Homo sapiens: one gene and its partners. The protein of the gene in region 2 purifies or fractionates together with the protein of the main gene of each other region. This does not show direct contact. Each region holds a gene or a part of one and is shown on either strand. Other genes may lie near its edges.

What was found.
Region 1: the proteins of MTNR1A (region 2) and HNRNPA0 purify together in Homo sapiens (tandem affinity purification; 2 studies listed by BioGRID and IntAct, with this or other methods). This does not show direct contact.
Region 3: the proteins of MTNR1A (region 2) and CANX purify together in Homo sapiens (tandem affinity purification; 2 studies listed by BioGRID and IntAct, with this or other methods). This does not show direct contact.
Region 4: the proteins of MTNR1A (region 2) and GNAI2 purify together in Homo sapiens (tandem affinity purification; 3 studies listed by BioGRID and IntAct, with this or other methods). This does not show direct contact.

What each region holds. Positions count from the first base shown.
Region 1 is NC_000005.10:137,751,364-137,759,114, forward strand, and holds the start of HNRNPA0 (heterogeneous nuclear ribonucleoprotein A0), read right to left. Parts: upstream 3,001-7,751; 5' UTR 2,704-3,000; coding exon 1,786-2,703; 3' UTR 1-1,785. UniProt on the Homo sapiens protein: mRNA-binding component of ribonucleosomes. Specifically binds AU-rich element (ARE)-containing mRNAs. Involved in post-transcriptional regulation of cytokines mRNAs.
Region 2 is NC_000004.12:186,552,564-186,560,369, forward strand, and holds the start of MTNR1A (melatonin receptor type 1A), read right to left. Parts: upstream 3,005-7,806; 5' UTR 2,803-3,004; coding exon 2,619-2,802; intron 1-2,618.
Region 3 is NC_000005.10:179,722,948-179,729,966, reverse strand, and holds part of CANX (calnexin isoform d precursor), read right to left. Parts: coding exon 6,948-7,019; intron 6,308-6,947; coding exon 6,188-6,307; intron 5,311-6,187; coding exon 5,184-5,310; intron 3,288-5,183; coding exon 3,208-3,287; intron 1,377-3,207; coding exon 1,323-1,376; 3' UTR 1-1,322. UniProt on the Homo sapiens protein: Calcium-binding protein that interacts with newly synthesized monoglucosylated glycoproteins in the endoplasmic reticulum. It may act in assisting protein assembly and/or in the retention within the ER of unassembled protein subunits.
Region 4 is NC_000003.12:50,231,697-50,239,215, forward strand, and holds the start of GNAI2 (guanine nucleotide-binding protein G(i) subunit alpha-2), read left to right. Parts: upstream 1-4,507; 5' UTR 4,508-4,639; coding exon 4,640-4,757; intron 4,758-7,519. UniProt on the Homo sapiens protein: Guanine nucleotide-binding proteins (G proteins) are involved as modulators or transducers in various transmembrane signaling systems.

The DNA of each region.
Region 1 (7,751 bases), on a different chromosome or scaffold from region 2:
GACAAGAAGTTAAAAAATGGTTCAATATTAAAATATTATTTTATTTTAAAGCCCAATCTTTCAGAAAGCTTCTTAGTATAGCTTTGAGCCTTCAACGTCAACATGTAAGTCAAATATTTAAGTTAAATATTAACATCAAGTTAAGCATACTAGATTAAAAGGTACTCTGAACCCACCCACCAGGTTATACATACTCTCACTCAATCATGTAAAGAATTGAATTCTTTATTTGTGATATCCATAAACGTTGCTATTCTCTATTTCTATCCAGAAAGGCAATTTTCACCTATTATCACTTTTGTTCTTCTCTTATAAACAACAACTTGAATGCTATTGCAGGAAAGGGCTACAAATATACATTTGTTAACCAAGCAGAATACACAGATATTTTGCTTTACAACTTGCACCTAAAATACCAGTATACGTAGCTGGTTCATTAGTTGTCATAGCAATTTAGGGCTATTGCCCAAGCTATGCATAGCAGTTTACATTTTCAAACCTCATATAGAAAGGGCTATTGTGATATGAACTGGCAACTACATTCCTGTGAAGCCCATCTCAGTTACAAGCAAATGTGTTAACTTCCAATTCTGCAAAGAATTTTGATGGCAAAACTTCCAAATCTGATGCAATTGTCTTAAGCAAGTTTTTAAACAAATTGTTTCGCAGCTACTCTGCCATTCTGCCAGTAGATGGTGCTACAAAGATCGGGAAAGGGATTTCCATGAGGCCAACAGTTCGGATATAGGAAAAAAAAAAAAAAAACGTTTAAACCTGCTCTGAAAGTACAAAAACGCATTTGAGGGTAAAATATAACCCTTATTTTTAACCATTCATTACAGACAAACCAGTAAGAGGGATGAAACTAGGCCATCTGAAAAATTTTAAACAGTTTATATGAATGACATGCTTAACACAAACTATATAGAACTACACAGTACACAGTTTGAAGTAAATTGTCATAGAAATGACCAACCATGTCAAGATGATAAACAATTCGCTTAGTACAAGAGATGGATGCACAGAAACTTAAGAGTTTAAAAAGCCACATCCACCACTTCAAAAGTTTTGCCTGTAAGGGATATAATTCAACACGCAACTAGCAGGGCAACAGGAGAGGGGAAAAAAACCACAGGACCTCTTAAGTTTCTCTAAGTACACATCAAGAATAAAGAATTAACACGTAAAGTCTTAAACAAATATCCCTTAAAAAACGGTACGGAATGGATCCTAGAAAAAAAATGTTAGACATGTACGGTCAAACACAATGATTTATTAAAAATAAAACGTAAAAATGATTTTTGTACATATGCTTCCAAATTTCAGGCATGGGATCCAAGTAGATTTCATAGAAAACGCTGTAGCCAGGTTATCAAGTCCTTACAACAAAGTAAACTACCCCCCACCCCAACCCCCACCCAGGTTTTGCTACAGAATCAGCAAGTTCACTCCCTCCCTCCCCCCAAAAAACACAAATTAAAACAAGACATTTTGCTAGTATAAAAACGACCAAGGTCCAAGTAATAATAAAAAAATAGAGTCCATCAATGACTGTAACACAAAAATGTGTATGTGGGGCCGAGTCCATCTTCAGAGGGAGAGACAAGAGAGGTGGCAGGCAAATAGAGGAACACCCCCAAGGGTAAGCAGCCTTAGAAGTGGCTCCCCCAAGGGCAAAACAGGGAAGGCGGTGTGTGTGAGGGGGTGGGGCTTAGGAGTTGACCCCACTTGGGCTGTTGGAAAGAGCTACCCCTATAGCCACTCCCAGGCATTTTAAATTTTCTTTTAGAAGGAGCTGCCTCCATAGCCACCCCCACCGCCATAGCCGCCTCTGTAAGGTCCACTATTACTGCGACCGCCCCAGCTACTGCCTCCACCGCCGCCGCCGCCGCCGCTCTTCATGGGCCCATAGGAGGACTGATGCTGGCTGTAGCTGCCGAAGCCGCCGAAGCCGTTACCGTAGTCGCTCCCACCGTAGGACGAACCGCCGCCGCCGCCTCCGTAGGCATTGTAGCCGCCGCCTCCGCCGCCGCCGTAACCACCGTAGCTGTTGTAACCGCCGCCGCCGCCCTTGGAAAGGCCGTTCTGGTCTCGACCACCGCCGCGCCCCCGGCCGCCTCGGCCGCCCCGGGAGGATCGGGAGCCGCCTCCACCCCCACCGGAGTAGATATCCTCCTTGGGGACTGCTTTCTTCACCTCCACGCGATGGCCCTGAATCGGATGGAACTTGACCACCGCGGCCTTGTCTGCCGCGTCGTGATTCTGGAAATACACGAAGCCGAATCCACGCTTCTTGCCGGACTGCTTGTCGGCAATAATCTCGGCCTTTTCCACGGTGCCAAACTGCGAGAAGTGCTCGATCAGGTCGCCCTCAGCCACGTCTCCTTTAAGGCCTCCGACAAAGAGCTTCTTAACCTTGGCGTGGGCACCGGGCCGCGCCGAATCCTCCCGGGACACCGCCCGCTTCAGCTCCACAGTGTTGCCGTCCACGGCATGGGGCGAGGCGGCCATGGCGGCGTCCGCCTCCTCCACATTGGAGTAGGTCACGAAGCCAAAGCAACGGGAGCGCTTGGTCTGGGGATTCACCACCACCACGCAGTCCGTCAGAGTCCCAAAGGCCTCAAAGTGGCCGCGCAGGCCCGACTCACTCGTCTGCACATTGAGGCCGCCGATGAACAGCTTACACAACTGAGAATTCTCCATCTCCAAGGCCCGGGCCTTGCCCCCGCCCTGCGAGCTCCGAGGTTTCGCCGTCGCCGCCGTTATCGTTGGTTAAGGCCTCTACACAGCTTGGGCCCAGCCGTTGCTGGAGCCACCCCCGCCGCTCACCGACGGGGAAGGGAAAAAGGGAAGGGGAGGGAAGGAAGGAAGAGAGGAAGGGGGAGGGAAGGGGAGCGGTGCCGGCTAAAGGGCGAGCCGAGGAGACTGGAAGACAACCAAGGCCACCGCTACCGCCGCCGCCGCCACCTCCGCTCCCCTATCTGGGCACCACACAAAGAGGCCGCTGAACGCGCGCGCACCCTCCCCGAGGCGTGCGTCACCGCCGACGTACGGCAGCCTAGGGCTACCAGCCAATCCCCGCCTCGCTCCCCTTAATCCCGCCTACCGCGCCGCAGCGCCGCTCTAGATCACGGACTCCCCGCCCTCCGCGGTCTATTCAAGCCCGCGGCCTGTGCCGCTCCCGCTTCCGCTTCTGCCAGCCCACTTTCATTCCCGAGCGCCCCACTGTCCCTTGACATGGGTCCCTCCCTGCCCTCCGCGCACCACCGCGATTCATTTCCTCCTAGCACCGCGGCTGTTCCCAGTGTTTCTCCCCCTCCCCTTTACTCATCCCCTCGCCCAACTCCGCAGTGGCGTTCGCGCCAGCCCCTTGAGAGACATCTGAGTTCAGCCAATCACCGTGATCCCCTCGCACCCACTTCCGTTTTCGGCAGCTGTTGGACGGGCGCGCTCCCCGGTGCGCGCTTGCCCCGGCGCCCCCGGCGTGCAGAGCCGGCCTACCACCCCCGCGCCTTCTCCCGCCCAGGGCTTTGCCGGGGAGAGAGCAGGGGGCGCGCTGGGGGCCATTCCCAACGGATGCGGTCTGGGGCGCCACGCGCGGGCTTTTTGAAAACTTGACTGTTGGGGTTGGGGGCCCGGATCTACCCGCCGCCTCTCCGCTTGTCCGCTACACCTGGCGTCCCCGCCCCACCTCCCGCCCGCACAAAGATGGAGGGCAGAGGCCTGGTCCACGAAGGCGGTTATTAACCGTTTACAGTGGGCCCGACGTGCGGTTAAACTAAAACTTTGCCACGTGGCCCTGCGCAAAAGCGAGCCCGAGGCGGCGGTGTGAAAGACAACAGGGAACCAAAAGAACTTCAGACATTAGGAACCAGACGAGGCGCGACATCCCTGCCTCCCTGCCACCCTCCCGCCCTCCTTGAAGCCCTCCCACGATGCCCTCTCAGAGGAGGCCCTTTCAGGTCCCCTTGGCACACTCCAGCAGACATTTTCATTTAACCTCAGTGAATGGTTTTTTATGTGTAATTTACATCATCTATGTGTTGCTTTCTTTGAACTAGAATGTTAGCTTTTTTGTTGTTGTTGAGATGGAGTTTCACTCTTGTTGCCCAGGCTGTAGTGCACTGGCGCAATCTCGGCTCAGCAACCTCCGCCTCCTGGGTTCAAGCTGTTCTCCTGCCTCAGCCTCCTGAGTAGCTGAGATTACAGGCGCCCACCACCACACCCGGCTAATTTTTGTATTTTAGCAGAGATGGGGTTTCACCATGTTGGTCAGACTGGTCTCAAACTCCTGACCTTAGGTGATCCATCTGCCTCGGCCTCCCAAAGTGCTGGGTTACAGGCGTGAGCCACCGCGCCTGGCCTAGAATGTTAACTTTGCTTTTTTTTTTTTTTTTTTGAGACGGAGTCTTGCCTAAGCTGGAATGCAATGGCACGATCTTGGTTCACTGCAACCTCCACCTCCCGGGTTCAAGCGATTCTCCTGCCTCAGCCTCCCAAGTAGCTGGGACTACAGGCGGGCACCACCACACCTGGCTAATGTTTGTATTTTTAGTGGAGACGGGATTTCACCATGTTGGTCAGGATGGTCTCAAACTCGTGACCTAGTGATCTGCCCGCCTCGGCCTCCCAAAAGTAGAATGTTAGCTTTTTAAAGATGTTGGGTTAGACGAATGTTTTACAGAGAGAGAGATCATATACCCCTAAGTTACTGCTTTTAGTGCCCTCACTCAGATGGGAATGGAAGAAAATTACAATGGCTTCCATTTATTGAGCCTTTGTGTGCCAAGCAAGATAAATGGGGTGGGACATAGTTAATATGAGGCATTACGTGACCAAAAGCCTCCAAAACCATATGGTAAACGCTGAAGAAGTTAAGAGGAATTCCTCACTGTATCCTCAAGTATTCAGGAAAGATTTAGGAAAGAATTGGAAGTTGCACTGAACCTCAGAGCCAAAGACTAGTTAGTATCCTAAGCAAATTAAGGCTGGAACAGAAAACCAAATACCACAAGTTCTCACTTATAAGTGGGAGCTACACATTGAGTACACATGGACACAAAAGAAGGGAACATTAGACATCAGGTCTTTTTTAAGGATGGAGGGTGGGAGGAGGGTGAGGACTAAAAAGCTACCTATCAGGTATTATGCTGATGACTTGGGTGACAAAATTATCTATACACCAAACCCCCAAGACTAACAATTTACCCACATAACAAACCTCCACGCGTATCCCTTGAACCTAAAATAAAAGTTGGAAAGGAAAAAAAAAAAGATTTCTGTAGGGAGTTTATTTGAGCAAAATCCAGAGGGAACATAAGCTTCAAGAGACAGGGAGTGGGCCAGTTAGTTTGAGAGAAGCAGGCAGTTTTAGATAGAAAATAGTGAGAGGTAAGATAGGTTGAGGGTCTTTGGTACTATGAAATGATACTATGGAATGTGCTGAATCTTAGGTTAAGTAGTTTGGATACTGTAACAAAGGTAAATAGATGGGCTAAGGTTTGAGGGTAAACTAGTCTGATCTATCACTTACCCTGTAACCATTCAGTTATGTGACTTTGGCTAAGTTACTTAACCTTTTAAAAAAATGTAATCAGTTTTATTATCTTAAAATGGGAATAATAAAACATCTTTCTGTTGTAGTGAAAATTAAATAAGATTCTACATGTAAACATGTATACATGCCTGGTACACAGTAAGTGCTCAGTTTATCCAATTATATGAATCCTATGCCTGGTGCTGGCAATATGGCTGTAAACAACAGACAAAAACCTCTGCCCTCATGATGCTTACATTCTAGTGGGAAGAAGCAGACAATAAACAAATAAGAGTGGTATATGGCATGTTAGATAGTGATAAATGACATTAAAAAAATGAAAGAGGACAGTAGAAAGCTATTAACCTTGTTATTACAAAAAAAATTCAAATGTCAGGATTTGCCTATTGATAATAAAGAAAGGGGAAAATGGGCTGGGCACAGTGGCTCGTGCCTGTAATCCCTGCACTGTGGGGGGGCTGAGGCAGGCGGATCACTTGAGGTCAGGAGCTCAAGACCAGCATGGCTAACAAATTGAAACCCCGTGTGTGGTGGCGCATGCCTGTAGTCCCAGCTACTTGGGAGGCTGAAGCAGGAGAATTGCTTGAACCCAGAAGGCAGATGCTGCTGTTGTTAGCTGAGATGGCACCACTGTTTCAGAGTCATCCAAATCTTAAAACAGTAAAAGATGAACTCCTGAAGGAATAAAGACCATAACTTATGAAAACTGTTACTTTAGGAATTTACAATTTTGGTAGATAGTTTTTGCCTACATTGTTTTTAAATAATAGTTTACCAGCAGTGCCCAACTTTTCTGGCACAAGAGACCTATTTTGTGAAAAACAATTTTTCCACAGACCAGGATGTAGTTTCAGGATGATTCAAGTGCATTACATTTAATGTGCACTTTATTTCTATTATTATTGCATCATAATATTCAATGAAATATAATAATTATACAACTCACCGTAACGTAGAATCAGTGGAAGGCTTGAGCTTGTTTTCCCGCAACTAGCCGGTTCCCATCTGGGGGTGATGGGAGACAGTGACACCCGAAGTGTGTTGCTTATGTCCAGTTTACTCCATAATCTAGTTTTGGTTGCTGTCACTGCAGAAAACCCTGCTTCACAAATATAGGATGCTGGAAATGGAAGCAGGCTTTTCAGTGCTTTTGTGGCAATCTCAGGATATTCCATCCAGAATGTATGGAGATTTGAAGTTGTCTCAAACATACAAGGCTGCCGTCACTTGCAATCTCAAGCAGTTGATCCTCTTCTAGTATCGACAAAGTCAATTCTTCTGGCTTATTCACAAATGGGTGGTGGATCCATTCCTTCCCAGCTCAGGGATTTTTTTGTGGTTGGCAAGTAAAGCTCAAACTCTTTTGAAAGCTGAGCTAGGTGATCATGCAGCAGCTGGGAGAAAGAAGGCGTTGGCTCAGTCACTTTCAAAATCTCTGCTAATGTTTGAAACATGTCAGAAATCCCAATGTTCACTCATCGCCCCCATAACTCCAGTTTGGTTTTCAATGCAGCCCCTTTATCTGCTGATTTGAACACAGTTGTCATTCTCCCCTGAAGTGACAGATTGAATTCACTGAGCAGGTTGAATGTGTCACACAAGTAAACAAGTTTTGCCACCCATTCTATGTCACTGAAATGTGCTGCTAGTGGTGACTGTTTTTGTAAAAGAAATCTCTGGAGTGGCTCTCATAACTCAAAAATTCTGGCCAGTTATCTACCTTTAGAAAGCCATCTCATTTCTTATACACATCTCACAGAGTTGCGCAAACAGACATTGAGTTAAGGGCATGCACTTTAATGTCATTGATAATTTTAATCACATCCTGTAAAACCTTAAGTTCGGGTGACAATTTTCGGCTACCCGGCATTTCTCTGTAGATGACACAGTGCATAGACTCACATTCAGAAGTGACCTCTTTGACCTGAGTAGTGAAACCAGAAAGCCATCCAGTCATATCAGCCACTCTGTCTGTGCATATACTGACACAAAATGACCAATTCCGTTTTTCTGATATGTAATCAAAGTCTTGAATAGTTCTGCACCTGTGGTGTTGGTTGGCAACAAAAGTGCACATAACATATTCCCCTGCACATCCTCCTGAAAAAGATATGGCACAAAAACAAGCATTGTTGTCTTGTCAACATCAGTAGACTCATTAACCTGGATTGCATACCATGGTGACTCATTAATC
Region 2 (7,806 bases):
GTGTACCCAGAAAACAAACAAGCCAACACAGTATTACGTGTTTTATCCTTTTCAAAGTATTCTCATATGCGCCACTTCACTACAGTCATTGCAACACTCTTATGAGGCTAAGCGGTTGGGTATTACCTGCAATTCAACAAATGTGGAAAATGAAGTTTGGTATTTAGCTTCACTGATTTCTGAAATCAGAAGGAGCACAGCAAGGATCTAATCCTAGCGTTCCATTGCGGGAATCGTCCCTTATGCTATCAAATTTACTCAGAAGATATGATATGGTAGCTTCACTTCTATTATCAAATTGTGGACAAGAGTAGAGCGAATATTCTGTTGGCACCACAGATACCAGTGGTTGTCTGCAGCCTGCGTCGGCTGTGGCTGTCCACTGTCCCCGCCATGCAGATTGTTAGCCATTTTTAATTTATTCCCTGGGAAGTCAAATGTCAACACAGTCCCTTGAGGAGAGGAAGGTGGCATAAATCACCACAATTATACCAAGCTTTCCAAAGGAAAGTGATGGTTCAAAGCCTAGATGCCTTCACATTGTCATTTCTTCCATTCTCTTCTTCCCAACATTTCATCCTTAAAGCCAACAAAATTAATTTAGCTGAAATGAGAGGTCTGAAGATCATCAAAACTTTTAATAAGCATACCAAAACTTATATTTGAATCAGCTATCCTTATCACTGTTTCAAATTACCATCCATTCCAGAAATCCTCAAATGGCTTGAACCGCACATATAAACAAAAAATCCCTATTAGAAAAATATGGAACTTCTAAAGCTGTGCGGATTAAAGGTCACTAAGGGTCTCCCATGCAGCTACAGGAATATCCTCTTAAGAGCACGTCTTAGCAAATAAAATACAAAGTGAGTGTAAGGAGTTCTTAAGTTCTTCTTCAGAAAACACAAGAAGTAAAATTGTTCAGGCGTGATCATTTTTTACTTTTTATTTTATTTTATTTTTTTGAGATGGAGTTTCACTCTTGTTGCCCAGGCTAGAGTGCAATGGCACAATCTCTGTTCACTGCAACTTCCGCCTCCCGGGTTCAAGCGATTCTCCTGCCTCAGGCTTCCAAGTAGTTGGGATTACAGCTGTGGGCCACCACATCCAGCTAATTTTTTGTATTTTTAGTAGAGACGGGGTTTCACCATGTTGGCCAGCTGGTCTCGAACTCCTGACCTCAGGCGATCCACCCACCTCGGCCTCCCAAAGTGCTGGGATTACAGGCTTGAGCCATCGCGCCCAGCCGTGAACACTTTTTAAAGGTTCTGCAGGATTCAAACTTCCCAAATGCTGCAGGTGTTGACAGCAAGGAAGCAGGGCGAGCTCTGGAGGCCAGCTCTGGGAATTCAACCGGGCTCACACCTACAGTCCCTGGGAACAATCTGCAGCCCCAGTTTCTCCTCTGTAAGGCGAGTTGACCACGGCGCCACAGCACAAGGCTGCACTAGGATTCAATTAACCCAGTGCTCACAACCTGTTTGGTCCAGAGAAAGTCGTTTTTATTGCTAGGAAGGAAAGAGCCTCTTCTCGAAGGCAGAATTCCTCCAGTTTATATCAATCACCTACGAAGTGAGCTTATTCAATTTACTGACTCAAACTCAATTCATATTACTAAGTGCTTAACTAACTAATTCTCAAACTACAAACCGTAAAAGCACTACTGGGGGCGGGTGGGGGAGGCAGGGCAGGGGTGAGCCTCCCCAAAAGGAGCTAAGCAAAATTAGAGCTTTTCTTAACCACCTGGTTAAAACGAAAATATTGATCTTGGCAGACATGTTAAGTGCACGTTTCGTTCCCCGCCCCTTCTCCCAAAAGTGCCTCCAAATAAAAAACTAGTTTCTTCAGAGAACCAAGCATCTAATCATCACTCAGAGGTCTGAACATCCAGCATCCTAAGAACAAAGTGTCCACAGGTTCCCACCAGAACAAACCAGTTCAATGCATTGCTCGGAGGAAAAAGCAAGTTAACTCAAGCACACAATTACCTGTAGTTGCATATTATACGTAAGTGTACTCTTTCCTGCTCACGCCTGGCTACCTGCCTACTCTAACACAACAACTTCCGTTTTTAAAGTGTCAACTTGTTTACTTGGAGGAGCCGCCGCCTGCCGGACACAGCACGTTTGGGAGCCTCTCTTTCCACTGTAGGCTCGTAACTGCAGACTACTCCCGAACAACAAGACCACGGCGGCTGCTCCATCATTTTGCCAGCTTCTATGTTTCCATATTTTAACAATGTTGGGAAAACTAAATCACATGTTAAGACCAAGCAATTGATCAGTTCGTTGCAGAGGCTGCTTGAGGAACTTTCTGCAGCCTGGACCTGAGGCTTCTCAATCTAATAAACCTCAGACAGGACAACCAGACGGGGGTGTCCCCATAGGAAAGAGAACCCGACTCTGGTGGAGTGTCCCACCTCTTAGGGGCTGTGACTCCGCGCCTTATGAAAAGGCACTTTCAACGGGCAGGCTGGAGAAGAGTCCTCTCTAACAGGAAAAATAACTCCAAGTCCGCAGTGTTTAGGAAAAAGAACCAAGTGCTTGGGGAAGGCTGGCTGCCCGCGGAGAGGCGCTGCGTCCGGAGCGCTGGCCCAGGGGAGGCGGCGCGGGCCCTACCTGCGTTCCTGAGCTTCTTGTTCCGATACACCGACAGGATGACCAGGAGGTTGCCCAGGATGTCCACCACGATGGTGAAGATGAGGACGCAGGCCAGGGCGGACGCCAGCCACGAGGGCCGCGCGCCGTCCCCGCGGAGCACGGGCTGGGAGGCGTTGGGCAGCGCGCTGCCGTTGCCCTGCATGGTCCCTGTGCGCGTCCCGGCCGCGGGGCCATCGCCCGCCTCGTCCGCCCGCCCGACCACTTGTTAAGGCTCCGCCCGGCGCTCCCCGCGCCCACGCCCCATCCCGCGCGCTCCTCCACGCCGCGCCCCCGGACGCCCACGCCGCGCCGGACGCCACGGCCAGGTGACACCTGGTGTCCGCCGCGAGCCCGCTTGGATTCCCCGCCCGCAGCTCGAACCCCGCACCACGGGCCGACAGCGCCCCGGTGCGGGAAGCCGGGCCCAGCCGCCGCGCCCTGGGGACGGTGTCCCAGAGGCCTCTCCTCGTGGGCGCACGGCGAGGCCGTTCATTGTGTTTCCTCTCTGGGATGGGACTTTTCACCCAGCAGGGCCAGGCTGCCTGGGATCAAATGCGAAATGGGATTGGGGCGAGTTCACCAGCTGTGTGCCCCACCGCCCTTATCTTCCTTATCTGCAAAATGGGAATAAGATACTATCTCACCTGTTAGCCTCATAATTAGTAAAATGTGAAAAAACCAAGGACTGTCTTCCGTTGTGTATTGCACCGCTTAAGATGGTGCTAGATGTTTCCGATAATGAAATGACATTTTCAAAGAAAAAAGTAAAACTCAATATTTGCAGATGATAAAAATGTATGTACTTCTGTAAGTACCAGTAAAAATGAGAAAGAAAGCACACTTAGGTGGATCGGATACATGGCAGCAATGTAAAAGTGCTAGGAAATGGCCTAACCAGTTGTGTGCAGTGAGGAAAAAACTTTATGAAAACCATGAAAGGAAATTTAAATAAACGGAGAGACAAACAGTGTTCCTAGCTTCGAAGCCTGAAATTTTCATTTTCCTCATATACTTTATGCCAGACCAAGAAAAATATCAAATAACCTAAAGTTTCTTTGAAAGAGTAAAAAGAAAGTGTAGGAAAAGGATTTGAATAAGATGAATAGGAGAGAAGTATGACCTACCAGTATCAAAATGTTCATTAAAAATTACAATTAAGTGGCGCCTGGGATTACAGGCACGGTGGCTCACGCCTGCAATCCCAGCACTTTGGGAGGCCGAGGTGGGCGGATTACCTGAGGTCAGGAGTTCAAGACCAGCCTAGCCAACATGGTGAAACCCCGTCTCTACTAAAAATACAAAAATTAGCCGGGCGTGGTGGCACAGGCCTATAATCCCAGCTATTCGGGAGGCTGAGGCAGGAGAATTGCTTGAGCCCGGGAGGCGGAGATTGCAGTGAGCCGAGATCGTGCCACTGCACTCCAGTCTGGCAGACAGAGCAAGACTCTGTCTCAAAAAAAAAAAAAAAAAAATTACAATAAGTATGCCAGGCACGGCTGCTCACACCTGTAACCCCAGCACTTTGGAAGGCTGAGGCAGGTGGATCACCTGAGGTCAGGAGTTTGAGGCTGGCCTGGCCAACATGGTGAAACCTCGTCTCTACTAAAAACACAAAAATTAGCCAAGTATTGTGGTGGGCGCCTGTAATCTCAGGAGCCTGAGGCAGGAGAATCGCTTGAACCCGGGAGGCAGAGATTGTAGTGAGCTGAGATCACGCCACTGCGCTCCAGCCTGGGCCAAAAAGAATGAGACTCCGTTTCAAAAAAAAAAAAAAAACTAAAACAGTATTGAGCTCATAAACAATTTGAAAAAGCATATAAAATAAAGATTTTATAAAGTGAACAGTTCAAATCAGTAGGGCTGGGATAGATCACGAAAACAAAAATGCATTTAAAGAAAATGTAGGTAAATATACATATCACTTGAGGTAGAGAAGCACTCTGTAAGCCTGGAAAAAAGACAGACAGGAAATAATCCTAACCATAGAAAAGGTAGCAGCTGCCATGGACAGCGTGTGTCACTTCCCATCTCTGGCATCGGTATCTTACAACCATTGTTTGCACAATGTGTTAACAATTCCAGAAGGTCTGGCACTGCTGCGACCATTTTATGGACGAGAAACCTCTGGTGCTGAGAGGTTAAGCAATGTACCAAAGTCACACAGCTGGTAACAAGTAGAGGCAGGATTGGAACTCAGGTCTCTCTGACTGCCAAGCAAGGAGCCTCATTACTAAGTGATAGTGTTTCTCGGTCGTGATAGATTTGACTACGGAAAAGTTAAAAGTCCTATATTCAAAAAATACCACACACAAGTGAAAGCTAGAGAAACTGGGGAAATGATTTGTGACATAGCTAAGAGACGAAGCATTAATGGTCTTCATTATTGTTATGGTTTCAGCATGTCCCCAGAATTTGTGTGTGGAAAATTTGGTCCCCAGGGGAAGGCGGGGCCTTCAAGAGGCGATCAGGTCAAGAGGGTTATACCACTCTGTCTGACTGGGTTAATTCTGCAGGCATGAGTCAGTTCTTGCTCTCCTGGGACTGGATTAGTTACAGTGAGAGTGGGTTTTAAAAAATTACCACTCCAGCCTGGGAGACAGAGAGAGACTCTGCTTCAGAAAAAAAAAAAAAAAATTATCCAGTCCCAGGTATTGCTGTATTCTGTAATAGTGATGGAAAACAGACTAAGACAATTATATAAAGAGCTAAGGAAAAAAAATAGAAATATATTTAAAGGTCATAATTAGACAAAAACTAAAAATGTATGTGTAACCTCTTTTAGCAAAAAAGTTAAAAAAAAGAGAAAGCTTCCATTCCAGCGATCACTTTAGAAAACATTATATTGGTAGTGCCAAGTGTGGTTTGAAACACGTGGAGAAAAAGCATTCCTGTGCACCAGATATGGACGTCTTCAAACTGCATACATGGTGCTAGTCGTTTTACTAATAGAAAACAATTGAACAGTGTCCACATGTGTCAGGACACACCGTTATTTCTCCCTGCATTGTTTGTCACAGGTAAAACTCCTATACTTGGGGTTTTGATACACAAATTTGTGAAATCAACAGATGAAATACAAAGGCATAGATGGCTAACTCTCCCCCAAAAGGGGTGGCATACATAATGCTGGGGTGCACATAACAACATTCATGATCTTTCTTCCCTGGGGAATGAGAAAGGTGAAGCTGGGAAACCACGAGCACTGAAAATGATGGTGAAATCCTGGAAAACAAAGACCCAGAGAGGGAATGCCCAGACTCTGACTGCCAGCATCCCTGAACCCAGCACGTGAGGAATAGACCCAAAGGAAGCAACTGGAGCAAAAGGCCTGAACTGAGGCTGGAGCTGCCACACAAGAAAACAGTTCCAGTTCCAGCCTAGCCAAGAACACTGCCTACTGAGACAAAGAAAACTCAACAGAGAAAAATAATAGCATCTAGAATACCCACAGTGTAAGATTCGTATGTCCATGGTACATTCAAAATTATTTAACGTATGAAAACATTGTCTGTCTATCTATCTATCTATCTATCTATCTATCTATCTATCTATCTATCTACCTATCTATCTATCATCTATCTAAACACATTCTTTAAGATACAATAAGATCAATCAAATCCAGTCCCTAAATGAGCAAAATGTTGTAACTAACAATCTCAGCAAAGAAATAGGAACTCCCATGAAAGAAATAAAAACAGTAAAAAAGAACGAAGGGGAAATTCTAGAACTGAAAAATACAATTTCTGAAATTAATTCTTTACTCAATGGACTTACTAGCCAAATGGACATGACAGAGTAAGTATACTTAAAGATAAACCAACAGAAATTGTCCAACACAGAGAAAAGATATATTTTAAAATGAACAAAGCTTACAATTCTTATAGATTATATTAATTAGAATACTAGCTGTAGAAATAAAATGGTGCAGAAAAAATATTAGAAGACATCATGATTGAAATTTTCCTGAATTTTAGGAAAGACGTAAATTTGTACATGCAAAATGAATACTAAGCAGAATAAACAAAAACAAGCATACTAAGGCACAGCATAGTCAAACTGCTAAAAGCCAAAGATAAAAAGCAATTAAAGTCAAGTTACATATTACGTACTGGTTAGCAATTAATCCAACTAACAGCTGATTTCTCATCAGAAACTGTGCTAATTTTCTATTACTGTCATAACAAATTACCTTAATTAAATTAATTTGGAGACTTAAAACAACATCCATGTATTATGTCACAGTTAAACAGACCAGAAGTCCAGGTACAAAGTGGCTCAGCTGAGCCCTCTGCTTAGGGTCTTATGAGGATAAAACCACAAAGAAGTAGAGCTGTTTCTTTCTGGAGGTTCTCAGGGTAAATCCACTTCTGAGCTCATTCAAGTTGCTGGCAGAATCCAGTTTCATATGGTTGTAAGGTTGAGGTCATTCTCAGCTTCTAGAGGTTGGCTGCATTCCTTGACTCATGGTCCCTTCTCTCATCTTTGAAGCCAACAATGGTGGGCAGAGTCCCACTCACACTTCAAATTTCTCTAACTTTATCTTCTGCTTTATCTCCTCTGCTGTTAGCTGGAGAAAGTTCTCTATTTTAAGGGCATGTGGATTTAGACTGGGCCCAACTAGACAACCCAGGCTAATTTTTCTATCTGAAAGTCCATAGCCTTAATTATATCTGAAAGTCCCTTTTGCCATTGGTCTTACCCCTCATTGTGTTGCTATAACAGAAGACCACAGACTGGGTAATTTACAAAGAAAAGGAATGTATTTCTTACAGCTCTGGAGGCTGGGCAATCCAAGATCAAGGGGCTGCACCTTGTGAAAGCCTTCTCGTTGTGTAATCCCATGGTGGATGAAATACCCAAGACCGAGTAATTTATAAGGAAAAGAGGTTGAATTGGCTCACGGTTTCACAGGCTGTACAGGAGGCATGGCTGCTTCTGCTCGACTTCTAGGTAAGTCTTGGGAGACTTACAATCAGGGTGGAAAGCGAAAGGAAGCAGGAATATCTTACATGGCCAGAGCAAGAGGAAGAGAGAGAGGAGGGAGGTGCTACACACTTATAAACAACCAGATCTTGTGACAACTCTATCACAATAACAAAACCAAAGGGAGAAATCCACCTCCATGATCCAATGACCTCCCTCCAAGACCACCTCCAACACTGGGGAT
Region 3 (7,019 bases), on a different chromosome or scaffold from region 2:
CAGGACTGCTTTATTGTGTAATTTATGACACAACTGTTACATGAATTGCAAATGAAGGCTTAAAATATATAGCAGCTACAAAAAAAATCAGATAACTCATGCTTCATGTCACTCCTCCCACAAATACTTCTAGTCTGTTCAACTGCAGTCAATTCTGTATTGGTTTGCCTGTGAATTAGACTTCTCAAGTCTTTACACAGAGTAAAAGAAATGGATAAAAATCAAAGTATTTTTCTGTACTTTGTATCAATGTATTCTATTCTGTACTTTGACCCTGGAAAGGTATGGGTCTGCTTAAAAGAAAGAAGAAACATACACGTAATCACAATAAAGCTTAACATTATGCAGGGCTTATAATCATTTTCAGCAACGGACTGCAAGCTGCACTGTGAAGAAAATGCATAGCAGAGGAGAAAGCTGGGGATCTGAGGAAATAGGTAAGGAAAACAGTGTCAACACACAGTGGAAGAAGTGATGAAGACATCTATTCCGGAGCTCACGTGCCATGCCCTGCTAGCATTCCTTAACAAGCCACCTGCTCCAGAAGGCCACAGCCTGACCCTCCCAAGTGGAATATAAATGCCCAAGTGCCACATGAAGCCACCTCCTCCACTACCTAAAAAGCTGTCTGGGAACTGAGCTACAGAACACACACACTTTCTGGTCTAACAAACATCAAGTGAAAGAATTTTTTCTTATATATCTATTTTTAATACAACTTAAACGCAACTTTTATATGAATTTGGGCTTCTATTCAGTCCCTCTCCTCAATTTCCTTAGGAGGAACTCAATAATGGAAGCAAACAAAACAAGATTCTAACCACAAATGACTGCACTTTAAACGTAATTATCAATTTTGAGGGACAGAGGTGTGAATGTTTTACAATACCAAACTTTAAAAAAAATCTATTATAAAAACTGCAACTCATCTCCCTAACATTTTTAAATGGTGGTATTATGTTTGCACAAACAGATTAATACATTAAATTAAGCCAAGATCTTAAAGACTGGCAAAGTTCTATCATTCTATTTTAAAAACAAAGATGTTAAAAAAAAAAAAGTTAGTTTGCTTCATGTTACATTTCACAACCATTATGTTAAATGTTTTCTTTTCTACAGAAACAGGGTCCTTTATATCACAACTGCAAGTATTTACTGCTAGATGTTTAAAGTTACACAGACTAGTGTTCAACTGGAGCCTGCTGATGGTGATGTCTTGAAGTTTTCTGAATGTCAACCTAAGGTGTGCCAGGTCCTCTCCTAGGACCACTCTTGCAGGGGAGGAGGGAGAAGAAATCACAGATCAAGCTCTTAAGATTGTTTCACTCTCTTCGTGGCTTTCTGTTTCTTGGTGATCTGTTCAAAATTTCATCCTCCTATTGATTGAAAAGAAATTCATTATAATTAGCACATTTAAAAAATAATAAAAGTTCACCATATTTTCAAGATCAGCCAGACTGAGGGTAACTTATTTGAGGAAAAAAATGAGGAAAATGATGAGAAGAAAATGCACCAAGAAGAATGGTTGTCTCAGAGGTGGTGGAATTATGCCTACTCTAATTCAGTTTAGTCTTTATTGTTTTCTATAAACATACACTTTTCTCAATCTAACCCATAAACATTTTCTTAAAAAAGGATCAGACACTGTGATTTCTTAATCTTGCTTAATCCCAAACAATCTACTGGCCTATGGCACACTAGCCCCATTCTGAGGATAAGAAACCAAGGATTCATGAAGATGGAAGGCTATCCAAGTAGACTGACTCCAAGGCTGCTGCTCTGTACTCTATCACAAGTTGCTAAGATTGTAAATTACCCTATGAAAATATTCCCTTTTTTTAAATGCACCAGCAACTTTTTAACGTGTGAGGGAGTTTGGGGGAAACATGGTCTCTACTTTTAAGAATTGCATTCTAGTTAAGACAGAACATATCCATGGAAAATATACAAAAGATACAGATAGCAATGATCTTTATTAATAGGAAGGCAGAGTTGTAGCTGAAAGTAAAACCTGAGGAGAGCTTTCCGGGAGAGACCAGATTTAGACACAGAGGTGCTGGGTAAAGGACTTTAGTAAGCAATGGTACATACAGACAGTGACTGTTCCCTTTCTCTCATACTCTATATATCCAATCTACCACAAAACCAAGATCCAGATCTCCAACTAGTTCTCATACCCTCTGTTCCTCTCCTGTCACCCTTTGTGGGGCCACCGTATCTTTCCTAGATGATTACAGGGACCTCCTAACTGGTCGCCCTGATTCTCCCTGGTATATAGGAAACACAGCAGACACAGTCATCATCCTGTGACACCTGTGTCCAGTAGCCTGTGATGGCTGCCCGCTTCACTAGGAGGGAAAGCCAAGTCCACACAACAGCCTGTCTAACCTGGAGCCTTCTCCACCCTTCTTTTCTCCACTCTCTCTGTCCACTCACCATACTGGCCTTGTAGACAACCACTTTAGGCCTCAATACTGGCTGTTCTCTGTGCCTGGAATGCTCTTCCCACTTACATCCCCATGGAAAAGTTCTCTACCTCTTTCAAGTGTTTGGTTCGATGTCATCTTTCGAGTAAGGTTTTAACATGGTGACCCGCCTACCTCTAGCACTTTTAGTATCTTTTCCTGTTTTAATTATTCATCGTTTCTTACTTCCTAATACGCTGTGTTGTTTACTTCCTTAAAATGTTTACTGCTCATTGCCTGTTTCCCCCAAGTAGAATTTAAGCTCCCTAAAGGCAGAGTATCTTTGTCTGTCTTACTCACTGACAATGCCTGGCACAAAATGGGCACTCAACAAATGTCAGTTAAATGAATGAATGAACCCATCTATGGACAACGGGGACAAAAAGTTTAGAACACAGTGATTTGTATAAGAAATACTTTTCAGGGCACAGTGAGGAGAGGCAAATAGACTGTTAATGACCCGAAGTTTCCTTCTTAGCAAGCATTTTATTTTCCCCCTATAACCTTCTGCTTATTTCAGAAAATGATTTTCAGCTAAAAAGATACTTCTGAGATTAATATGTAGCTTAAAATTATCAAACAAAACACTGACCTGTATCACAAAGAATCCCACTTCAACAAAATTGGCTTTAACAGAATTTTTACTGCCATAAGCCACTGTAAACTACCCTATTAAAATATTCCCTTTACATAAATGTACCTTCAGCTTGGTAAAACAAAATGTGTGACCCCTTTCCTTTACCTCTGCTTTAGGTTTTCTGTCTTCCTCCTCTTGACTGACAGTGCCACCATCTTCTTCAGCATCACTTTTCTGTTTCTCTTCTAAGACAGAAGTTAAACAACTGAGCAAAACCTTATTATTTTTGGTGATTATATATTAGCATTAGAACACATCTCTAGATCTACAATTTTTTTTTTTTTTTTTGGAGACAGAGTCTTGCTCTGTCGCCCAGGCTGGAGTGCAGTGGCGCGATCTCGGCTCACTGCAAACTCCGCCTCCCGGGTTCACGCCATTCTCCTGCCTCAGTGTTCTGAATAGCTGGGACTACAGGCGCCTGCCACCATGCCCGGCTAACTTTTTTTATTTTTAGTAGAGACGGGGTTTCACCGTGTTAGCCAGGATGGTCTCGATCTCCTGACCTCATGATCTCCTCGGTGGCCTCCCAAAGTGCTGGGATTACAGGCGTGAGCCATCGCGCCCGGCCACTATTTTTTTTGAGATCGACTTTGCTTGTCACCCAGGTTGGAGTGCAATGGCATGATCTCGGCTCACTGCAACCTCTGCCTCCAGGTTCAAGTGGATCTCCTACCTCAGCCTCCGGAGTAGCCGGGATTACAGGTGCCCACCACCACGCCTGGCTAATTTTTGTATTTTTAGTGAAACGGGGTTTCACCATGTTGGCGAGGCTGATCTCGAACTCCTGACCTCAGGTGATCCACCCACCTTGGCCTCCCAAAGTGCTGGGATTATAGGCGTGAGCCACCTTGCTCGGCCAACAATTTTTTTTTTTTTTTGAGACTCAGTCTCGCTCTGTCGCCAGGCTGGAGTGCAGTGGCGCAATCTCGGCTCACTGCAACCTCTGCCTTCCGGGTTCAAGTGATTCTCCTGCTTCAGCCTCCCGAATAGGTGGGACTACAGGCGCCCGCCACCATGCCTGGCTAACTTTTTTATTTTAAGTAGAGACGGGGCTTCACTGTGTTGGCCAGGATGGTCTTGATCTCTTGACCTCGTGATCCACCCACCTCGGCCTCCCAAAGTGCTGGGATTACAGGCGTGAGCCACCATGCCTGGCCAACAATTTTTTTTTTTTTTTTTTTTTTGAGACAGAGTCTTGCTCTGTCACCCAGGCTGGAGTGCAGTGGCCCAATCTCGGCTCACTGTAAGCTCTGCCTTCCCAGGTTCACGCCATTCTCCTGCCTCAGCCTCCTGAGTAGCTGGGACTACAGGCACCTGCCACCATGCCCGGCTAATTTTTGTATTTTTAGTAGAGATGGGGTTTCACCATGTTAGCCAGGATGGTCTCGACCTCCTGACCTCGTGATCTGCCTGCTTCGGCCCCCCAAAGTGCTGGAATTACAGGCGTGAGCCACCGCACCTGGCCAACAATTTTTTTTTAAGAGACAGGATCTCGCTGGGTCTGGTGGCTCACGCCTGTAATCCCAACACTTTGGGAGGCCCAGGTGGGAGAATCGCTTGAATCTGGGAGGCAAAGGCTGCAGTGAACCGAGATCACACCACTGCACTCCAGCCTGGGCAACAGGGCCAGACCATATCAAATAAATAAATCAATAAACAAACAAACAAACAAACAGCTGAGCATGGTAGCGCATGCCTGTGGTCCCAGCTACTTGGAGGGGTGCTGAGGTAGGAGGATCACTTGAACCTATAAGGTCAAGGCTGCAGTGAACTGTGACTGTGCCACTGTACTCCAACCTGAGTGACAGAGTGGGACCTTGTCTTAAAAAATAAAAAAGAGAGAGAGAGAGAGACAGGGTCTCACTCTGTTGCTCAGCTGGAGTGCAGTGGCACTATCCTGGCTGACTACAGCCTTAAACTCCTGGGCTCAAGTGATTTTCCTGCTTCAACCTCCCAAAGTGCTAGGATTACAGGCTTGAGCCACCACGCCTGGCTAAAAACAATCCTTAACTTGACTGTAAAGGTTTAACAACATCGTAGGGTCTTGGCTTAAAGCAGATTTTCTGGACTCTGTTTCTTACCAAGTTTCTCTTCTCCTTCCTCCTCCTCATCTCCCTTGTCCTTTTCCTCTTCCTTCTCTTCTTCCTCTTCCTTCACATCCGGTTGAGGTGCATCAGTTTTCTTATACTCCATACCACTGGTCTGTTTCTGAAATGTTCCCCAAAGTACAATTTTGTTTACATGTTCATGTATTATGTTATATAATTCCTGAATGCCTACAGGCAAAGTTCTGTTCCAGGCTGTATACAGGGATAGATATACAGAAACGAATAGGATGTAATTCCTACCCTGAAGAGCGTGTATGTACGTGTGTGTATGCACATGTGCTTGTGTGTTTCAAGGTAGAACAATAAAAACAAAAGGGCCAGGCAGGAAAATAAAGGTCAAAAAAGTCAAGGTGACTGAGGCACCGATACACAGAATAGTGGCAGAGGCTGAGGCTGGAAAAGGAACTTGGGATCCAGTTACAAAGTGCTATGAATGCCAGATGAAGCATAATCCTCATTTAGCAGAAGTAGAGTCCAAAATAAGACTTTCTTTTTTTATGATAGCATGCAAAAAAAAAAAGGCTAAACAAGAAAAACTAACAATAAGGCTGTGGTACCCCAACATACTGTTTTGAGAGTGGGGAAGGTGAAGGCAGAATGGATAATGAGGAATCAAAGACTGAATTACAAAGAATAGAAATAGCTATGCCAGCAGGCAAAGCTGATTATTGCCCAAGTGGCTAGTTTGGTATCTAAGTTTATTGTTTTTTTTTAGAAAGTTGCTGCCGAACACTATGGAGAGTAACAGATTAGGATAAATAATAATAGCAACCAAGGGGCTATAAATCCTGCTCCCATCTGGGCACAATAAACGGCCACTGAGGAACAGTAAGTAAGGTTTCTGAAGTCAACACCAAACATGGCTTGGTCATTACTGAGCCACTACAAAGAAAACCTCAGGCAACATATCTTAGTTATTTTTAATAATCACTAGAGTGATGTCTCTAAAATTGATTCTAAAAAAAAAAACTTCCTACCTTTCCAGAACAGCAGAAGAGGATAACCAGGAACACAGGAAGGGCTACAGTTAGAATATAGACTACCCACAGCCACGGGCGCTCTTCAGCTGCCTCGATCATCTGCCCCACAACGCCTGGCTGAAAAACAAGACAGGGCTGATTGAAAGTTCCAGCTTTTGACACCAAACATAGGCCGTGCTGTTTTTCTGCAGTTCAGTTATGGCATGGCACTACGCAGGACCTTCTTTTTCAGAGAAAATGCTCATAAAATGTAAAAAAGAAATTAGAGAAAGCCTCCATCCTCTTGCTCTCCTTATAATCAAGATGATTTCACTCTCATAGGTGCAAAAGCTGGCTTCTACATCACCTGCAAAAGGCTCCCTTAACCTCAGGATCCAGTGAATTTCTTATCTCAGTATCCCTGGCTCTCCAATTCTTAAATCGGCCACATGACCAGTTGTTTGAAAATTCTGTATGTAGTGTAAACCGAGATTCAACATATAAGAGTGTATTAAAATATAGCCTAAATGACAAATTTCGAAATATATACCCAGACAAATAATAAAAAAAAAACCCTGAACACAAACAGACTCTAAAGCCACTACATTAGACTAATGAAATCATGCCCCAAAACCCAATATTGTGTCTTTTGCAGGCATATGGTTATACTTTTTATGCCAATATTGCCAAATGAAGAAAAAAAACCTTAACACAGACTTTCACAAAATAACAGCTCCTTACAATAACAGACACAAATGCACAAGCAGCAAACACGAACCTCAGCAGCCCCATCAGCAGCTTTCTTCAGGCCCCATCCATCATTGGCCCAATCATCAACTATTCTTCGATC
Region 4 (7,519 bases), on a different chromosome or scaffold from region 2:
GACAATGGGACTCAGAGAAGCCCAGCTCACAGCCAGGGAATGAAAGGTGGGGAGGAGGGATTAATTTAACAGGGTAGGGGGATGGGAGGGAAGATCGAGGGATGGAGAGAGCAAGGCAAGCCAGATGGTTGGAGTGCCAGTGTGTTGCAAGTGGAGGGACATGAGGTGGACCCTTGAGTGGGGACAATCATAAAGCCTTACAGAAATCGCTACTATTGGGCCAGGCACAGTGGTTCATGCCTGTAATCCCAGCACTTTGGGAGGCCAAGACGGGAGGATTGCCTGAGCCCAGGAGTTTGAGACCAGCCTGGACAACATGGTGAGACTTCATCTCTATTAAAAAAAAAAAAAGGGCCGTGCACGGTGGCTCACACCTGCAATCCAGCACTTTGGGAGGCCGAGGCAGGCAGATCATCTGAGGTCAGGAGTTTGAGACCAGCCTGGCCAACATGGCAAAACCCCATCTCTACTAAAAATACAAAAATTAGCCGGGTGTGGTGGCAGGCGCCTGTAATCCCAGCTACTTGGGGAGCTGAGGCACAAGAATCACTTGAACCCAGGAGGCGGAGGTTGCAGTGAGCCAAGATCATGCCACTGCGCTCCAGCTTGGGTGATAGAGTCAGACTCAGTCTCAAAAAAAAAGAAATCACTACTATAACACCTCACCCTTATTGAGGGCTTTCTATGTGCCATGCACATTCTGCATGTTTTACATGTTTCCTCCTGGAGTCCTGACCTCTGCCTGTGCTTTGGGTATGTATAACCGTTAGGCCCATTTTACTGATAAGAAAACCGAGGTACAGGGAGTTTCTGGTACTTGTCCAAAGTAACAAGTAGCTGGCAAGTTTGCAAACTGCTCCTCAGAGTCTTTGCTTCCAACTGCCAGCCTACAGCCTCCAACTGCTGCAGAGTCCAAACCAGTGTGTGTGGGGGCTTCATCTATTCTCAGGGCATTGGGGAACCACAGAAAGTTTCCGAGCAAGGGGGTGATGTGATTTCTTTCAGTAGGATGCCCTTGGCTGCCATGTGGAGGATAAATTGTAGGGAAACAGGAGAGCCAAGGAAGACGTTAGAATCCTAGGCTGGGAGATAGTGGGGACAGAGAACAAATACAGATTGGAGGGGAAATTGAGGTAGGGAAGAGGCTGATGGCATATAGGGGTAGGGGAGGGGGTCATTGCTGTGGCTGGTGGGGGGATCATGAAGTGGTGGAGAGCCTGGGAACAGGGGCCAGTGGGATGGGATGTACCCAGTTCTGGACAGTGTGGATTTGAGGTGCCTGGGTGTCTCGGGGAGGCTTCAGAGCAGTGGTGGACATGGGGCTGGCAATCAAAGAAGTCAGGCTGGAGAGGACCTTGTGGGGTTCTGAGCCCCCAGAGTGGGAGGTGTATGAGTGGAGTGGCAAGCAGAGGCCTGGCCATAGCCCTGGGGACCCCATGGAGATGGAGAAGGAGCAGCTAGCAGGGTGGAAGCAAGGGTTGCTGGACTCCCTGGGAAGAGCATAGGACTGGAAAGGAGCAGCTGACTGGCGGGAAGGGTGCCATAACCACAGGACCTGGCCTGGGGCTGGGGAAGGCCATGCCTTCCAGTAGCCCCATCTTGCCCTGCCTCCATAGATTGGGGTCTGTGTTGCGCCCACCTACTGAGAGCTGGGCCTCCAAGGGGCTGACAGGTTCTCCCTGTTGCCTGGCAACTGTGAGAGCTGTTGGCTGTTGCTAGGAGCAGGCTAGAGAGGCCAGAGGAGCGAGGATCAGCTCTCAAGCCTGGGGCAGGGTGACAGGTAGAGGGAAGGGGAGGGTCCCACCTTGGAAGCCAGTTTGTAGTCTGTGCGTGGACAGATTGTATTCTTGGCCATGTGTACCCATTTTTGTAGAGTGTGTTCTGTGGATCTGAGGCATGTTGGAGACTGACCTATGTGTGGGTGTCTACAGCATATCTGTGGCCCTGGTGGACATTATGTGTCCTCAACATGTTGCATGCCCATGGCAGGGCCTGCTTGAGCTTCAGAGCAGTGGTGGACATGGGACATCATATCCTATGTCTCAGGACAGGAGGGGGGCCTGAGGGAGTCATTGGAGGACTTCCAGGCCAATGACCCCTCAACAAGAGAGACATTCAGATAGGGATATGCAGACACTCCAGGGAGAACAGCCAGCCTGGGGATTGGGAGCTGGAACAAAATGTGTAACAAGGTTCTTTTTTTTTTTTTTTTTTTTTGAGACGGAGTCCTGCTCTGTTGCCCAGGGTAGAGTGCAGTGGTGTGATCTCAGCTCACTGCAATCTCCAGTTCCCAGGTTCAAGTGATTCTCCTGTTTCAGCCTCCTGAGTAACCAGGATTACAGGCACGTGCCACCACGCCCAGCTGATTTTTTTTTTTTTTTTTTTTTTGAGACGGAGTCTTGCTCTGTCACCCAGGGTGGAGTGCAGAGACAGAATCTCAGCTCACTGCAAGCTCCGCCTCCTGGGTTCACACCATTCTCCTGCCTCAGCCTCCTGAGTAGCTGGTACTACAGGCGCCCGCCACCACGCCGGCTAATTTTTTGTATTTTTAGTACAAAATACACCGTGTTAGCCAGGATGGTCTCCATCTCCTGACCTCGTGATCTGCCGCCTCGGCCTCCCAGTACTGGGATTACAGGCGTGAGCCACCGTGCCCGGTCTTTTTTTTTTTTTTTGAAATGGAGTTTCACTCTTGCCCAGGCTAGAGTGCAATGGCATGATCTCAGCTCACTGCAACCTCCGCCTCCTGGGTTCAAGTGATTCTCCTGCCTCAGTCTCCCAAGTAGCTGGGATTACATGTGCCCACCACCACACCCCGCTAATTTTTTGTATTTTAGTAGAGACAGGGTTTCTCCATGTTGGTCAGGCTGGTCTCGAACTCCTGACCTCAAGAGATCTGCCTGCTTCAGCCTCCCAGAGTTGCTGGGATTATAGGCATGAGCAACCATGCCCAGCCAAAATGTGTACCAAGGTTCTAAGGAAGGGGTTTATGCTAAACACCGGGCTGTTGGTGGCAAGCACCCTGTCTTGCTTCAGGGGCCTTCCCTTTGGGCTGGGGCCTCCTAGCCTCATGGCACTGGGGTCACACAAAATGCCTTCGTGGTTAATTTTTGGCAGACCCTTCAAATGTCCAATCGAGGGTGGGGCTCTGGGCTGCTCCTGGAGCACAGGATCAGAAAGACTTGAAATGTTCAGCTAGAAACACTGCTGCTTCCACCCCACCTTTGCCTGGCCATAGGGTTGCAGCCATTGCCCAGTGGGGACAGGCCACAGGAGGGTGGGATGTGGGATCATGGCCACCTCCAGACGTGGACAGGCCATGGAAGAGACAGGTCATAAGATCATGGCCACTTTTGTTTCTAGAAGTCCAGTGGCAACTTCTTCCTCTTTCTTCCCTCCCAACCCCCTCACCCTGCCTGCCCGCCCTCCTCTCTTCCTCCCTCTCCACCCTCTCATCCTCTCTCCCTTTCTCCCTTGGGTCCTGATTGCCTGGTCCCAGATTGGAGTCCAGGATGGCTGCCTGCCGAAGAATGCCTCCCGGTAGATTGGGGAAGGATGGATATGAGAAGCCACCCAGCTAAAGGAGACAGCCTAGGCAAAGGTGTAAAGATGGAAACCAATTTTTTTTTTTTTTTTTGAGACGGAGTCTTGCTCTGTCGCCCAAGCTGGAGTGCAATGAATGGCGCGATCTCGGCTCACTGCAACCTCCGCCACCCGGGTTGAAGCAGTTCTCCCGCCTCAGCCTCCTGAGCAGGTGGGATTACAGGCGCCCACGACCACGCCCGGGTAATTTTTGTATTTTTAGTAGAGATGGGGTTTCACCATGTTGGCCAGGCTGGTCTAGAACTCCTGACCTCAAGTGATCTGCCCGCCTCGGCCTCCTAAAGTGCTGGGATTACTGGCGTGAGCCACTGCGCCCGGCCTTTTTTTTTCCTTTTTCGACTAGCTGCAACCCAGAGGGAGAAGGCGGTAAACCCGCCTTAAGACTGAGAAAACCGCAGTCCAGAAAGGCTCCCGAGTTCGTAGATCCCAAAACAAGTTTACTGGACTCATTAACTTTAACAAATGACAAAGACACGCCTCCTCCACCTAACTCGCCCAACTCGCAGAAGCTCAGAGGGCTGGTTCCTGCTCTGCCCTCGAGGGCACCGGATCCCCACCCTCGGGTTAACAGATCCGCCCTCCCGGCTGTCCAGCAACAGAGCTCCCGGCGCTCCGCACCCAATCACAGCCCGGTCCCGCCTGCAGCCCGCCCAGTGCCGGGTCCCGGGGTTTGGAACCACCCCTATTGCCTTTTCTCCGCGTGGCCCCGCCTGCAGCCCAGGCCCGAGCCTGGGCTGCGCCTAACTTCCCCCTTCGCTCCGCCCTCGAGCCAATCAACAGCCTCTAATCTCCTCTGGCCCCGCCTGCAAGCCCGCCCCGGCCCAGTCACAGGCTTGGTTCGCCCAGGCCCCACCCCCGGCCCGCCCCGCCGTCGGTGCGCGGCGGTAGGGAAGGCGCCTCCCGCAGTCGCTCGGAACTGCCGACCCGAGTGCTTCCCGCAGAGGGCTGGTGGTGGGAGCGGAGTGGGTCGGGCGGGGCCGAGCCGGGCCGTGGGCCGTGTGGGGGCCGGGCGGCGGCCGGGCCGGCGGACGGCGGGATGGGCTGCACCGTGAGCGCCGAGGACAAGGCGGCGGCCGAGCGCTCTAAGATGATCGACAAGAACCTGCGGGAGGACGGAGAGAAGGCGGCGCGGGAGGTGAAGTTGCTGCTGTTGGGTGAGGCCGCGTCCCGCACTGGGATCCTTGATTCCCAGCTCGAATCCCCAGACAAGGACTTTGACCTCCCAGACTAGGGCTTCAAACTCCCAGACCCGGGCTGTCTGGGACCCCACACCTGGGCCAGGACCAGGGTTGAAAACTCTAGATTGGACTAGACCTTTGATCCTGCCCAGACTCTAGACCAGACCCCTGTCTCATCCCAGACCCCAGACCTCCAAATCCAGTCAACAGTGCCCCAACACCCGCGGTCCAGTGCCCTGCTTGGCCATCCCCCCTTGCTAACTAGCTTCACAGAACTTCAGAGCCCCGCCATCCTTCCCTACACTTTGCCCAAACCCCCAGGATGCCCGCCACTTGTTCCCCAACCCTCAGGCTCCGCTTGTTTTCCTCACCTGCGCCTTTTATTCCTATTGGGCATGAGCATCCCGCGGGGCCCCTGCCAGGCCCCCCACCCACTCCCTCCTTCTCCTTCTGTGCCCCATCCCTAGTCTGGAATCTGTATCCTCCACCTGTGCACTCTGACCCAAGGAACCTCTCGAGTGGGAAACTGCTCTTGAGCCCCATCTCCAGCTGGAACCCCTTCAGCGAGCCCTGCTCCCTGCTTCCTGCCCTCCAGATCCTTCTCTGCAGGCATCACTCCCGAAACCCTCTGCTGATCCTCCCCTAAGTCCTCTTACACTCTGGCCTTCCCCAGATCCCTCCACCCTTCCTGCACCAAGTGGGCTGGGCTAGGAGGCGGGAGCCCTGGGTTGGAGAGGGCCTAGGCTGCCTTATGCAGAACCCCCACGGGGCTGGATTGAGGCTCCACTGGTCACGCTGGGGGAGGGGGCCAGGCCTCAGGCTTCCCAAGGAGGCTCTATGTTTTCCAGTTTCGAAGGCCAGTCTGGGAAGTAGGAGAGAGAGTGGAGGAGTTAGGGTTGTGGCCGCCTCCAAGGCCAGAAAAGATGGTGGCTGCTAGAGGAGTGGGGGGAAGTGGAAGTGGTGAGACAGCCGACATATTGCTGCCCCTGCGGGTGAGCCCAGGAGATCTGCTAGTAGGTGCTGGGCTGCCCACACCCCTTCTGGGCTGCAAGGCCTGGGATGTAGCCTCTGAGAGTTGGGGGGCTTGTTGGATCTTGGGACCCTGTGAAGGGGGATGGTGGACTAGCTGAATGAGGAGTTGAGGGGCCAGCTGGGGGTGGGCCAGGGTGCCTCTGAGCATCCCAGCTGGCCTTTTGCAAAGACGGTGGGCCTACTGGCTGTCCCCATCCAGCTTCCCACTGGAAGTAGGTGTGGTGCCCAGTGGCAGTCTAATTTTGATTTGGGGGTTTTAGAGTTGGGGGGAGGGAGGCCCTTGCAACAGCGCAGCACCGTTGTAGGCTGAGAAGTGCATGGGGGGGTGTGGCCCCTCGACTTCAGAACTGTCATAGGGCTCCCAGGCTGTGAAAAGCAGGGCTTTTCGTGCTGGACCTGTGGCCGAGGAACAGCATGTATGTCCATTATGGGCCATCTGTTGACTGTCCCTGCGGACCCGGCCTCCGGGGCACAGCCTTGGAGGTTTCAAAATGGCATCCGCTTCGCTGCTGCCTCAGGGAGGAAGAGAAGGGGCGGGAAGGGGCGGCGGCCCAGCCTCCTGGGCTGCTTTGCGTTGGGCGCTTGCCTCTTCCTGTCTCTGCTGTGAGTGCGGCAGCGGCAGTGAGTGGGTGTCGACGCGGCGGAATGCCCGTCGCTGCTGCTGCTGCTGCCCGACGGGCCTGGGGAGGGCACTTCCGGTACCGCTGCCTCCCAGTGCCCAGCCAGGAGTCTCTAGACAGCCTCTCCCCAGGCGATTGCAGTTACTGTGGTGGCCGAGGAAATGCAAGACTGGACCATAGAGCTGGGGGAACGCAGGGCTTCTGGCTAGTTTTGTGTCCCGACACCAGAAGGGTCCCCCATCCCACCAGGCCTGCTCCTTGGAGCCCAGCTCACCTTTTGGGCTAAGGCAAGTGAGACCTGGTAACTCCTCCCACACTGGGCTGGCAGCAGCCAGGGGTGCAGGGTCTGGCTTAGCACTTTCTAGCCTGGGAAGTTCACCCTGGGGTCCTGGCCTTCTGGCCTTTGCTTACTCTGTGAAATGGGCTTCCTGGGTTTTGGCCAAAGGAGTGCCCCAGGTCAGGATGGGGAGGGAGAACAAGAGCCTCCTGGTGGTTCTTGTTGGGGATGTAGGTTGGGAGTAAAGACCCTGCAGTGTGCTGCAAAGGGCTCTGACCAAGCTCTGCTTGATATTGATGACCCAGTCTGCCATGGCTGCCTGGGGAGGGATCCTGGCTTGAGCCATGCCTTTCCCATCCAGGTGCAAGGTGGTGATGGGAGCCCAGCTGTGGTAAGTTCAGAGTTCTGGGCGCCTGTCCCATGTAGCGGGAGACTTTGTCCAGGCAACGGGACTCAGGTTGGGCAACTGCCAGCCTTCCCTCCCAGCCAGAACCACGCCTGCTGCCCCGCCCGCACACCGCCTCCCTCCCATCTTGGGTAGCCCTGCCAGCAGGCAGGCACAGTCCTTGTCACCAGGGCAGAGGCTGATGTGGTACACACAGGCAAGAGAGTATTTCCTGGCAACTTTGTAGGGGGAGCAGATACCAGTCCTATTCTAGGGATGCTCCCCACTCCTACCCAGCTCAACGTGACTGATCAGCTAGGCCCAGGTGGAATCTGGGACCCTGGTCTGGGCTCTTAAGGGAAAGGAAGCCAGAGTGTATGTGAGGGGGGAGAGTCTCTGATTTGGGATGGGCCTGTGTGGACAG